3 linked regions of the Homo sapiens genome follow. The protein of the gene in region 3 purifies or fractionates together with the protein of the main gene of each other region. This does not show direct contact. Each region holds a gene or a part of one and is shown on either strand. Other genes may lie near its edges. The genes, in order: ZNF346, KSR2 and ZC3H4.

What was found.
Region 1: the proteins of ZC3H4 (region 3) and ZNF346 purify together in Homo sapiens (co-immunoprecipitation; one large-scale study listed by IntAct). This does not show direct contact.
Region 2: the proteins of ZC3H4 (region 3) and KSR2 purify together in Homo sapiens (co-immunoprecipitation; one large-scale study listed by IntAct). This does not show direct contact.

What each region holds. Positions count from the first base shown.
Region 1 is NC_000005.10:177,025,601-177,029,250, reverse strand, and holds part of ZNF346 (zinc finger protein 346), read right to left. Parts: intron 1-3,650.
Region 2 is NC_000012.12:117,458,354-117,462,003, reverse strand, and holds part of KSR2 (kinase suppressor of Ras 2), read left to right. Parts: 3' UTR 1-3,650. UniProt on the Homo sapiens protein: Location-regulated scaffold connecting MEK to RAF. Has very low protein kinase activity and can phosphorylate MAP2K1 at several Ser and Thr residues with very low efficiency (in vitro).
Region 3 is NC_000019.10:47,072,201-47,075,850, reverse strand, and holds part of ZC3H4 (zinc finger CCCH domain-containing protein 4), read left to right. Parts: intron 1-3,137; coding exon 3,138-3,499; intron 3,500-3,650. UniProt on the Homo sapiens protein: RNA-binding protein that suppresses transcription of long non-coding RNAs (lncRNAs). LncRNAs are defined as transcripts more than 200 nucleotides that are not translated into protein.

The sequences.
Region 1 (3,650 bases), on a different chromosome or scaffold from region 3:
TATGAAGGCTTCATTACATAGGCATGGTTGATTAAATCACTGGCTATCGGTGATCAATTCAACCTTCAGCTCCTTTCTACCCTCTCAAGATGGGGGGCTGTAACTTCCAAGCCTCTGAGCACATGGTTGGTTCCTATGGCAACCAGCCAACCAGAATGTGGTAATCTAGGGACTTCTCAAAAATCACCCTATTAACATGTACCAAGGTGTGGCTGAAAGGGGCTTGTTATATGGCCGGGTGCGGTGGCTCACGCCTGTAATCCCAGCACTTTGGGAGGCCGAGGAGGGCAGATTACGAGGTCAGGAAATCGAGATCAGCCTGGCTAACATGGTGAAACCCCGTCTCTACTAAAAATACAAAAAATTAGCCAGGTGTGGTGGTGGGCGCCTATAGTCCCAGCTACTTGGGAGGCTGGGGCAGGAGAATGGCATGAACCTGGGAGGCGGAGCTTGCAGTGAGCCGAGATCGCACCACTGCACTCCAGCCTGGGCAACAGAGCGAGACTCCATCTCATAAAAAAAAAAAAAAAAAAAAAAAAAAAAGAAAGGGGCTTGTTATAAATAACAAAAGTCTGTTTTTCACCTTTCTTGCTCTGGAGCAGTTCCAGAGGTGTTTCAGGAAGCAAGGACAAAAGGCCAAATATTTTAACAGAAGATACTCTTACTGCTTTAGTCACTGAGGAAAGTACAAGGGTTATAGAAGCTGTGAGCCAGGAACTATGGAGGGAAATATATATATATATATATATATATAAAACGTCACAAGTGCTTAAGAGAGAAATTTATAATTTTAAACATCTACATCAGAAAAGAAGGATCTCAAATCACTCAAATCAGCAACATAAGATCTTACCTTAGAAACTAGAAAAGATCAAGAAAATGACAAATTCTTAGCTAGACTAACCAAGAAAATAATCAGGGACCTCACATCTGTAATCCCAGTGCTTTGGGAAAGCAGAGGCGGACAGATCACTTTAGAGTTCGAGGAGTTCAAGACCAGCCTGGCCAACACAGTGAAACCCCGTCTCTACTAAAAATACAAAAAAGTTAGCCGGGCATGGTGACACATGCCTGTAATCCCAGCTACTCGGGAGGCTGGGGCAGGAGAATTGCTTGAACCTGGGAGGCGAAGGCTGCAGTGATCATTACTGCACTCCAGCCTGGCAAGACCCCGTCTCAAAAAAAAAAAAAAAAAAAAAAAAAAAAAAAAGTGACACAAGGAGAAACAAAATATTCTGTGTACACTTAAAACAAGTAAAGAAAATGAATAATCAAATACCTTTCCACAAAGAAAAGCCGAAGCCAGCTGGGTGCCATGGCGCATGCTTGCCTATAATCCTAACCCTTTGGGAGGCTGAGGCAGGAGGATCACTAGAGGCCAGGAGTTTCAGACCAGCCTGGGCAACAGAGCAAGACCCTCTATTTAAAAAAACACAAAAATTAGCTGGGCATGGTGGTATGCCCTTGCAGTCCTAGCTTTGAGTTTGAAGGAGTCTGAGGCTGCAGTGAGCTATGATTGTGCCACTGCACTCTAGCCTGGGCAACAGAGACCCTGTCTCTAAATAAATAAATAGAGAATTTAAAAAAAAAAAAAGGAAAGGAAGAAAGAAAAGCTTAGGCCCAGGTAGCTTCACTGGTGATAACTTTTTTTTTTTTTTTTTTTTGAGACAAAGTCTCAACTGTGTTGCCTAGACTGGAGTGCAGTGGCACAATCTCGGCTCACTGCAACCTTAGCCTCCTGGGTTCAAGCGATTCTCGTGCCTCAGCCACCTGAGTAGCTGGGATTACAGATGTGAGCCACCACACCTGGCTAATGTTTGTATTTTTACAAAAACACAAATTTTACAAAAATTTACAGGGTTTCTCCACGTTGCCCAGGCAGGTCAGAAAATAACTTTTATCGGCTGGGCGTGATGGCTCACCCCTGTAATCCCAGCACTTTGGGAGGCTGAGGCGGATCACCTGAGGTCAGGAGTTTGAGACCAGCCTGACCAACATGGTGAAACTCCGTCTCTACGAAAAATACAAAAATTAGCTGGGTGTGCTGGCAGGCGCCTGTAATCCCAGCTACCTGAGAGGCTGAGGCACGAGAATCGCTTGAACCCGGGAGGCAAAGGTTGCAGTGAGCCGAGATCACACCACTGCACTCCAGTCTGGGCGGAAGAGTGAGTCTCTGTCTGAAAAAAAAGAAGATAACTTTTATCTAAAGAATCCAAGTTTTTTTAAATGATCAGGGCCCAGAGAGATATTAAAATGAGATAGCAATCACTTCCTATTCTCCCTTTTTGAGCTAAGATTCATCTATCAAAACTGCTTGCTATTGCCACAAGTGGGTAAGGATTAACCTAATAATGCCCTACCTGACGCTATATCCTACATCCTACAGCTTAATGTACAGCCAATCACTAACCAATGTTATTTCTGTAAATCAATGAGAATTCTTGATAAACAACTTTGTATGAGTCCCACTCCCTGTCCACATTTTTTTGCCTTTAAAAATCAAGTAAACTCTTCAAATCATATTTTGTGTGTTAGCCTCTTCCTTGCAGGTCAACACTTCTATAAAATACTGTAAAAAGAAATATTACCAACTGAGTGTGGTGGCTCACACCTGTAATCCCAACACTTCGGGAGGCCAAGGCTGGTGGATCACCTGAGGTCAGGAGTTCAAGACCAGTCTGGCCAACATGGTGAAACTCTGTCTCTACTAAAAATACAAAAAAATTAGCTGGGTGTGGTAGCACCCTCCTGTAATCCCAGCTACTCAGGAGGCTGAGGCGGGAGAATCACTTAAATCTGGGACAGGGAGGCTGCAGTGAGCTGAGATCGTGCCACCACACTCTAGCCTGGGCGATAGAGTGGGATTCTGTCTCAAAAAAAAAAAAAAAAAAAAAAAAATTACCAATCCATCCTTCACAAACTCCTTCAGAAACAAGATGAGGAAGGGGCTGGGCATGGTAGCTCACGCGTGTAATGCCAGCACTTTGGGAGGCTGAAGGGGGCAGATCACTTGAGGTCAGGAGTTTGAGACCAGCCTGGCCAACGTGGTGAAACCCCATCTCTACTAAAAATACAAAAATTAGCCAGATGTGGTGGTGAACACCTGTAATCCCAGCTACTCGGGACGCTGAGGCAGGAGAATCGCTTGACCTCCTCCAGGAGAACCAGGGAGACGAAGGTTGCAGTGAGCTGAGATCATGCCACTGCACTCCAGCCTGGGTGACAGGGTGAGACTGCATCTCAAAAAAAAAAATAATAATAATAATAAGGAAGATCTACAAGAGAAAATTTCTCAAATCTTGGGTTAAGATAAAGAGTTCTTAGATATGACACTAAAGCACAATACATAGGATAAAAAATGATAAATTTAATCTCATCAAAACTTAAAACTTTTGTGCTTCAAAAGGCACTGTTTAGAAAATGAAAAAACAAGTCACAGTCAGGGGGAAATACCTGGAAATCATATCTATAATAAAAGACTTGTACCCAGAATACACAGATAACTCTTACAACTCAGTAGAAGACAAACAGCCCAATTACAAAATAGGCAAATGATGTGAATAGATATTTCACCAAAGATCTACAAATGGGTAGTCAGCCCCTGAAAAGTTGCTCAGTATTATCAGTCTTTAGGAAACCACAATGAGATA
Region 2 (3,650 bases), on a different chromosome or scaffold from region 3:
TAAGTGGCTTGTCTGTAGCGGACTGTCACTTGACCCCTGAATGTGCCTCATGACCCTATCCAAAGCAGTTGGTGACACAGCATCTGATTTTATCTATACTCTTGTTCATTGACAAAGGAGTGGATTTTGATGAGCTACATTTTGCTGTTTCCTTTTTTGGCTTTGCCTGTGATGTGGGGAAGTTCCTAGGCAGACTCATGTGGCCACTCTCCCTGGCTCCCAGCCTCACCTCCTCCCGTACCACCTCACCCTCACCTGCACACACCTGCAAGGGAATCACTTTGAACTCCAAGGGGAGTGACAGGCAGCAAATGTCAGTCTGGGTCCTGGAATGTGGAGCCGCAGTGAACCTCTGTCCTCTCTGGTCAGTGCCTGACTATGATATTAACCCAAATCCCAGACTCCCTTCTCGAGGCCCTGCAATCCATACCCATTCTGTTACCAGTTTAGTTTTGAAACCAGTAGTGGGGCAGGAGGTTGATGGAAAATCTGCGGTCCCAGTGACCTCCTGGACTTGTCTTAGTAGTGCCTGGCACATAGTAAGTGCTCAAGAAATGTTTACAGAATGCAGACAGAGAGGTTTGCTGGGTAAGAGTAAGACCCTGGCACAGGGAGTTAGAAGGGCACCATTGGCAGGGCTGGATGGTATTGGGATTCCCCTTTGCCAGACCATGTTGTGGGTGCCATATCAACCCCAATGAGTTTGTTTGTTAGGTTTGTTGTTGTGGTTTAGAGTTAGAGTCTTGCTCTGTCACCCAGGCTGGAGTACAGCGTGATCATAGCTCACTGCAGCCTCGAACTCCTGGCCACAAGCAATCCTCCCACCTTAGCCTCTCAAGTTGCTGGTACTACAGGTGCACACCATCATGCCTGGCTAATTTTTTATTTGTTGTACAGACAGGGTCTTGCTATGTTGCCCGCGCTGGTCTTGAACTCCTGGTCTCAAGCAATCCCCCTGCTTCAGCCTCCCAAAGCACTGGGATTACAGGGCTAAGCCATTGTGCTGAGCCAGTTTGCCAGGTTTAATATCTGTGACGTATGAAGCGACCCATTGAGTCAGGTGGCCCAGGATGTCTAGGAGGCAGAGTAACAATCCACCCTGAACAGCCCTCATTCACAGAGCACTTACTACGTGCCAGGCTGGAATTCCTATGATGGTTTGGGGAGATCAGTAGTCTTATTCTCGTTCCAATGGGGCAACTGTGGTACAGGGACAGAAACCAGCCTCCAAATTGCAGACCCAGCATTTTAAAAACGAGTCTTTGGGCTCATCCATTCCCAGGAACCCACCTCCAGGTCAAGGGGTTCATGTCCAGCTGCTCATGGGGATGTTACAATCCCAGCCTCTGAGACTTATTGGCAACTTGGAACCAGGAAAGAGAGAGAGGAAAAGCAGGAAGTTGTGGAAGGGAGGGTGCAGGGGCTGGCAGGGACCATACTGGGAGTTTGCACGGAAGCTTGAACTTATGTTCTCAAACTGACAGGCTGCCAGCAGCAGCCCGGATTTCCAGGAAATGTACATCTGGGTTGGCAGAGTCCCTCCTGGGTCCCTCCAGTATCCCTGCTCCAGGCTTCCTATCCCCTCCGTCTCTCCTGCTGGATGTTGCACTGTGGTCCCGTGTTCCTGAGAGGCGTACATCAGTGAGTGCTCTTCCCTCTCAGGGGTGGGAAAGGGCCCTTCCTTCCCACTCATTGGGATCATGCAGCTCCCATTTCCTAACACCAAGAATATGAAGGATTCATCTCATGGGGTTGAGAATGGCTGTCCTCCTTCCACTGAGGACTGAGCTGGAGGAGATGGACTCTGTCTAGAATGTGCCTGATCTAAATAAGACCTTGTTTCCCAAGCATGTCCCATAGACCTTTCATTCCATGGAAAACTCGCCGGATTTGCATTATTGAAAGGGTCCTGGGACAAGCATGCATTGGAAATGCTTAGGTAAAATGAAACTAATTTCTTGATTGCAGGACTTATCAGAACTTTTAAGACACTATTGTGTGGTTGAATCTCTAAATGCCTGATAGGAGGCTGTTCTTCCCAAGCTTTCCCAGGCTTGTTTCTGAATCTCCAACAAGGTCAACCTCTGTGAATGAGACTTGATACCTTACCTGGTACTGAAGGAGGCAATGTCAATGTACTGGCCCACAGAAAAGAGCTGACCACTAGCATTCATAGACACTGCTAGGAGATGAGAAAGGTAGCTTAGAGCCCGATTCCATCCATGTGGACAGTGGTTCCATGAACAAGAACACCACATCTGGCTGATGGTGTCTTCCAATGGAGGGGTCAAATCTGCTGTGTGTTGGTGGCTTCTCCAACATACCATGGCTTGGAGGCCAATGTGAAAAGTATATAAGATGTAACACCCTCAGAAGGGTTAAGTTTTCACCTGAGTTTTCATCTTCAACCAAGTCATTGGGATGGTGATCTAGAAGGACCTCTAAGATCTAGAAGGATAAAGATCTGGTCCAAGGAGTACAAATATGTAATGGATCTACCACCAGTGTCCCCTGCTGTACTCTTGGCAGACATCACTAATCCATCACAGCATGCCTTCCCACTGATCACAGATGTAGCTTCAGGGCATTCGAGTTACCACTTAAGATGGATATGAGTGACCCTCCCTTATCTCACTCTTCTCCTTTCACAGAAGCAGGATCTGAGGCCCAGAGAGGGAAGCTATAATAAACTCCCCTAAGTCAGGTCCCTTCTAAGAGGCAGAGGTAGGTTTAGAACTCAGGCCTCAGAAACTTCCAGAAGCCAAGCCATTTGGGCTGTAGTTGGTGGACAGTCTATCAGCGCTCTGCAGATGTTTCTTCTCAGTTAGGGAACTTGGAAAATGCAGAAAGAAAGATTCTGTCTCTAAGACTCTGTGTATGATCCTACTCGGTAATCTGCCTGCTTGGAGAAAAATCATTTATCTTCTGGGACGGCTTCACCACAAGGCCTGAATGCTATGCCCAGTCTAGTAACAGCTGGGCTGGAAGTCACGGCATATGGGGGCCTTAAGGAATAACAGTGTGCGTGGTGGTGTGCAGGAGAGCTGCAAGGGCTTTTCTTTCTTGAGGAGGTTTGTAAAATTTCTGCTGTTCAGTCTGGGCTTCTGGGAAGTCAGGGGGTGCTGCATATAAAGGGCAGGAAAAGGAGCCTGACTCCAATTGCTCTTTGGTTTCTTCCCTGAATGGAAGGCTCAAAATCAAGTTTCCACCCAGATAAGATCTTGAGGTCCTAGTGGACCACCAGCTCTACTCCTGAGCTCTTGAAATACCTCTAATCACCAGCTCGGTGGCTGAGAGTACCTTCTTGTCCACTGCCTCTTCTTTTCCTTCTCGTCTTCACTTATCCCCCATCCAACTTCTGCCCGATAATATCTCCCCTGTATTGTAAACTGAGGAGAAAGTTGCACAATTGTAGAGATGAAAAATAGCTGCCATGTATTTAGCTTAAATTAGCTCAGAAGAAAGGCTCCCTCCCTCCATTGAGCGGGCAGCACTTGTTTATGCCAACATGCTATTTGCATCGCGCCTTCTTAAATTTGAAAGTCTAATGATTAAAAACAAATCTTAGTTTTTCTTTTCCACCACTTAAAAAAAAAAAACCAGCTTGGCTAGTTCTTCTAGTTTAAAAATACCCTGACCTCCAGCACTAC
Region 3 (3,650 bases):
AGTTGACTCCATGGTGGAGTCAACCATTCAGGGCCTGAGCTCCTTTCTCCTCTGCACTGGACCCAGCCTCTGGATTCCAGGGAATGCATTGGTTTGTGTTCCTTGCTTAGTCGTTCACTCAATAAATCTCTGTGCCTTGTTTGTGCCAGGCACTGGGGGTGCTGAGGAGGCAGGGTTAGGTCCTTGGGCGGATGCTGATGACACATGGGGAGTGTGAGTGTGTGTGTGTATGTGTGTGTGCGCACACACACGTGGGGATCAGGCCGTGAAGAATAAGTGTGGGAGCCCAGGACTCTAGCTGGGCTCTATTCAGGAGGCAGACATTCAAGAGGCTTTGTGAGGAGGTGACACTGGCGGCCCCAGGATGTGCGGCAGTGGGGACTGAAGAGGAGGAGGAGGAGGGAGATGCAGGGTGGCAGCTGCAGCGCAAGCCATGGCCCCACACACAGTTGAGGAAGGGCCCTTGGGCCAGGAGGAAGTGAGCCCGTGGCAGTGTTGAAAGCAGCTGGCGCAAGGCTCTGGGCCCTCCCAGCAAGGCTCATCTCAGGTGGTGGTGCCCACGCTCAAAGGGCAGAATGCGGGTTCTGCCTCCACGGGTCCCCCTGTGCTGCTGGTTCACACGCTGACCACCCCTGGAATATCAGGGTTCAGAAGGACAGAGGGGTTCCACCGCGTCGTTTTCCACACCTCCTCCATGAAGCCACATTCTTATTGGACCCTGGGGTTCCAGGGTCCAGATACCATTGCTAATGGCTAGGAGAAGGGAAAACTGCGAATGCACAACCCCCACCAGGGGGTCCTGTTTCTGTCCGCCTTGCTGTTCCTGGGCAGAGGGGCAGGACTAGTTTATCTTGATGACCCTGTGTTAGGACCAACTAAGGGATCTGTGCTGGGGTCCCCAAGATGACCCAGAGCAACTTGCTGGGGGACTCACGGCCAAGATGTTAACTGCGGTGAAGGGACACAGGCAAACTCAGCCCTGGGAATGAGTACATGAGGGCGCCTGGAGGAAGCAGGCGCATCCTCTTCCTGTGGACTCGCAGGGGCCACGCTGCCCTCCTCCAGTTGTGACAGCACGAGTGGCATGCTGTCTGCGAGGAGACTTGCTCAGCGCCCAGGGTTTTCACTAGGCTGCTCACCTAGGCAGCCTCTGCCCAGCATGGACCAAAATTCCAGATTTGGGGGGCAAAGCAGGCATTCAGCACAAACTGCATTGGTTGCAGAAACAGTTTAGATGCAGTGAGCCCCTCTTACTGGACAGTGAATGCTGGGAGCCCTCCCAAAATGCAGCTTCCCAGACACCAGCCGAGGCCTAGCCTTGCAAGCAGGCCTTCCAAGGAGAGCAGCCAGGCCTCCTGTGTCACTTTTCTGCACGCTATCCTAACTGATGAGACATTCTAGTCCAGTTGAGATTTTGACATTTCTCATTCACTCACTGGGCGTCTGCCCTGTATCAGGTCTCGTGGGGGCCCTGGGGATATAGCAGGGAAGAAACAGTCCTGCCCTCTTGGAGTTGATGGGGAGGTTGAGCCAGGATGAACATGGGAATGACTGAATAATCCGACAAGGCATAGGCAGTGTTGGCAGAGAACTCCTGGTGACCCAGTAGTGAATACAGGAGACTGGACAGACACTATGAATTGACATCTAATGAGGGACCTCAACAGTTGAGTGACGTTGAGCCACATGGGAATAACAGGAAAAATAAAAACCTGGGGGAAGCTGGTCCTGGCCCTGTAGGGGAGAGCTTGGCTGCTCATTGCACTGAAACGAGGCTGGGTGGTTGGGGTGGAGGAGTCGGGATCGTGGGAGGAAATGAAGCTGCCAGGAAGCTACCCAGTCGTCCCCAGATACCTAGACACCCAGACACCCACCCCTGCTCTTAGGCCCTAAGGGTCATGGTCAGGAGTTGAGATCAGAGGCCCTTAAAATCCAAACATGACAGGGGAATATGATTCAGCCATAAAAAACAGAGTGACATACTGATAGATGTAGCAGTGTTGTAGATAGATGCACTTTGCTAAGTGAAAGCGCCCATCGCACACAGCGCATGAGTCTGTTCGCAGGAGCTGTCCAGCAGGGGCAGGTCCGCAGAGACGGAAAGCAGAGTGGCTGCCGGGGGCTGGGGGTAGAGGGTGGGGAGCGATTGCTTAGTGTGTACAGGGTCTCTTTTGGGGGTGATGAAAATGTGCTGGAACTATATAGAGGTGGCGGTTACATAACATTGTTAATGTGCCAAATGCCACTGCATCGTTCACTTTGTTTTGTTTTTGTTTTTTGAGATGGAGTCTGGCTCTGTCGCTCAGGCTGGAGTGCAGTAGTGTGATCTCGGCTCACTGGAACCTCCGCCTCCCAGGTTCAAGCGATTCTTCTGCCTCAGCCTCCTGAGTAGCTGGGATTACAGGTGCCCACCACCATGCCCGGCTATTTTTTTTGTATTTTTAGTAGAGATGGGGTTTCACCATGTTGGCCAGGCTGGCCTCAAACTCCTGACCTCAGGTGATCTGCCCACCTCAGCCTGCCAAAGTGCTGGGATTACAAGCATGAGCCACCACGTCTGGCATTATTTATTTATTTTTGAGACAGAGTCTCCTCTGTTGTCCATGCTGGGGTGCAGTGGTGCGATCTTGGCTCACTGCAGCTTCTGCCTCCCATGTTCAAGTGATTCTCCTGCTTCAGCCTCCCGAGTAGCTGAGACTACAGGCGTGCACTACCATGCCTGGCTAATTTTTGTATTTTTAGTAGAGATGGGGTTTTGCCATGTTGGCCAGACTGGTCTTGAACTCCTGGCCTCAAGTGATCCACCCACCTCGGCCTCCCAAAGTGCTGGGATTACAGATGTGAGTCCCTGCGCCCAGCTGAATCGTTCACTTTAAATGGTTAAACAGTATGCTTTGTTATGTGTATTTTGCCATAGAGCAGGAATGGCCCCCCCTCTACCAGCTGGTCCCCGAGAGTGGAGCAGAGAGGTGGCTGATGATGATTTTTGTTACAGAGCCATTGTGGTCTTTATGCCTTTAGATCTCAAGGTCCTTGTATTATGGACTTTTCCTCATAAACTTCAGCTCTCAGACCTGGAGAGGTCCGTTTCCATCCTGACCCCGTCCACACCTTCTTTTGTTCTTTCACACCCGCAGATGTTGGCCGATGATGCAGAAGCAGGTGCCGAGGATGAGAAGGAGGTGGAGGAACTGAAGAAGCAGGGCATCAACCCCCTGCCCAAACCGCCCCCTGGTGTGGGCCTCCTGCCCACCCCTCCTCGGCCCCCTGGCCCGCAGGCTCCAACCTCTCCCAACGGCAGGCCCATGCAGGGTGGCCCCCCGCCCCCGCCCCCTCCCCCTCCCCCACCGCCCGGGCCCCCTCAGATGCCCATGCCGGTGCATGAGCCACTGTCCCCGCAGCAGCTGCAGCAGCAGGACATGTACAACAAGAAGATCCCCTCCTTGTTTGAGATCGTGGTGCGGCCCACGGGACAGCTGGCTGAGAAGCTGGGTGTGAGGTGAGTGCCCTGGACCCCCGTGACAGGCAGTGGGCGCTGTCCTGGGCCCAGCCAGGCTCCTCTTGTTAGGGCAAGCCTGGCTGTGGGAGAGTCCTGCCTCTCTCCCCAGCTGTGGGAGTCCTGGTCTGGGGCCCATGACCTTCGGCTCTGC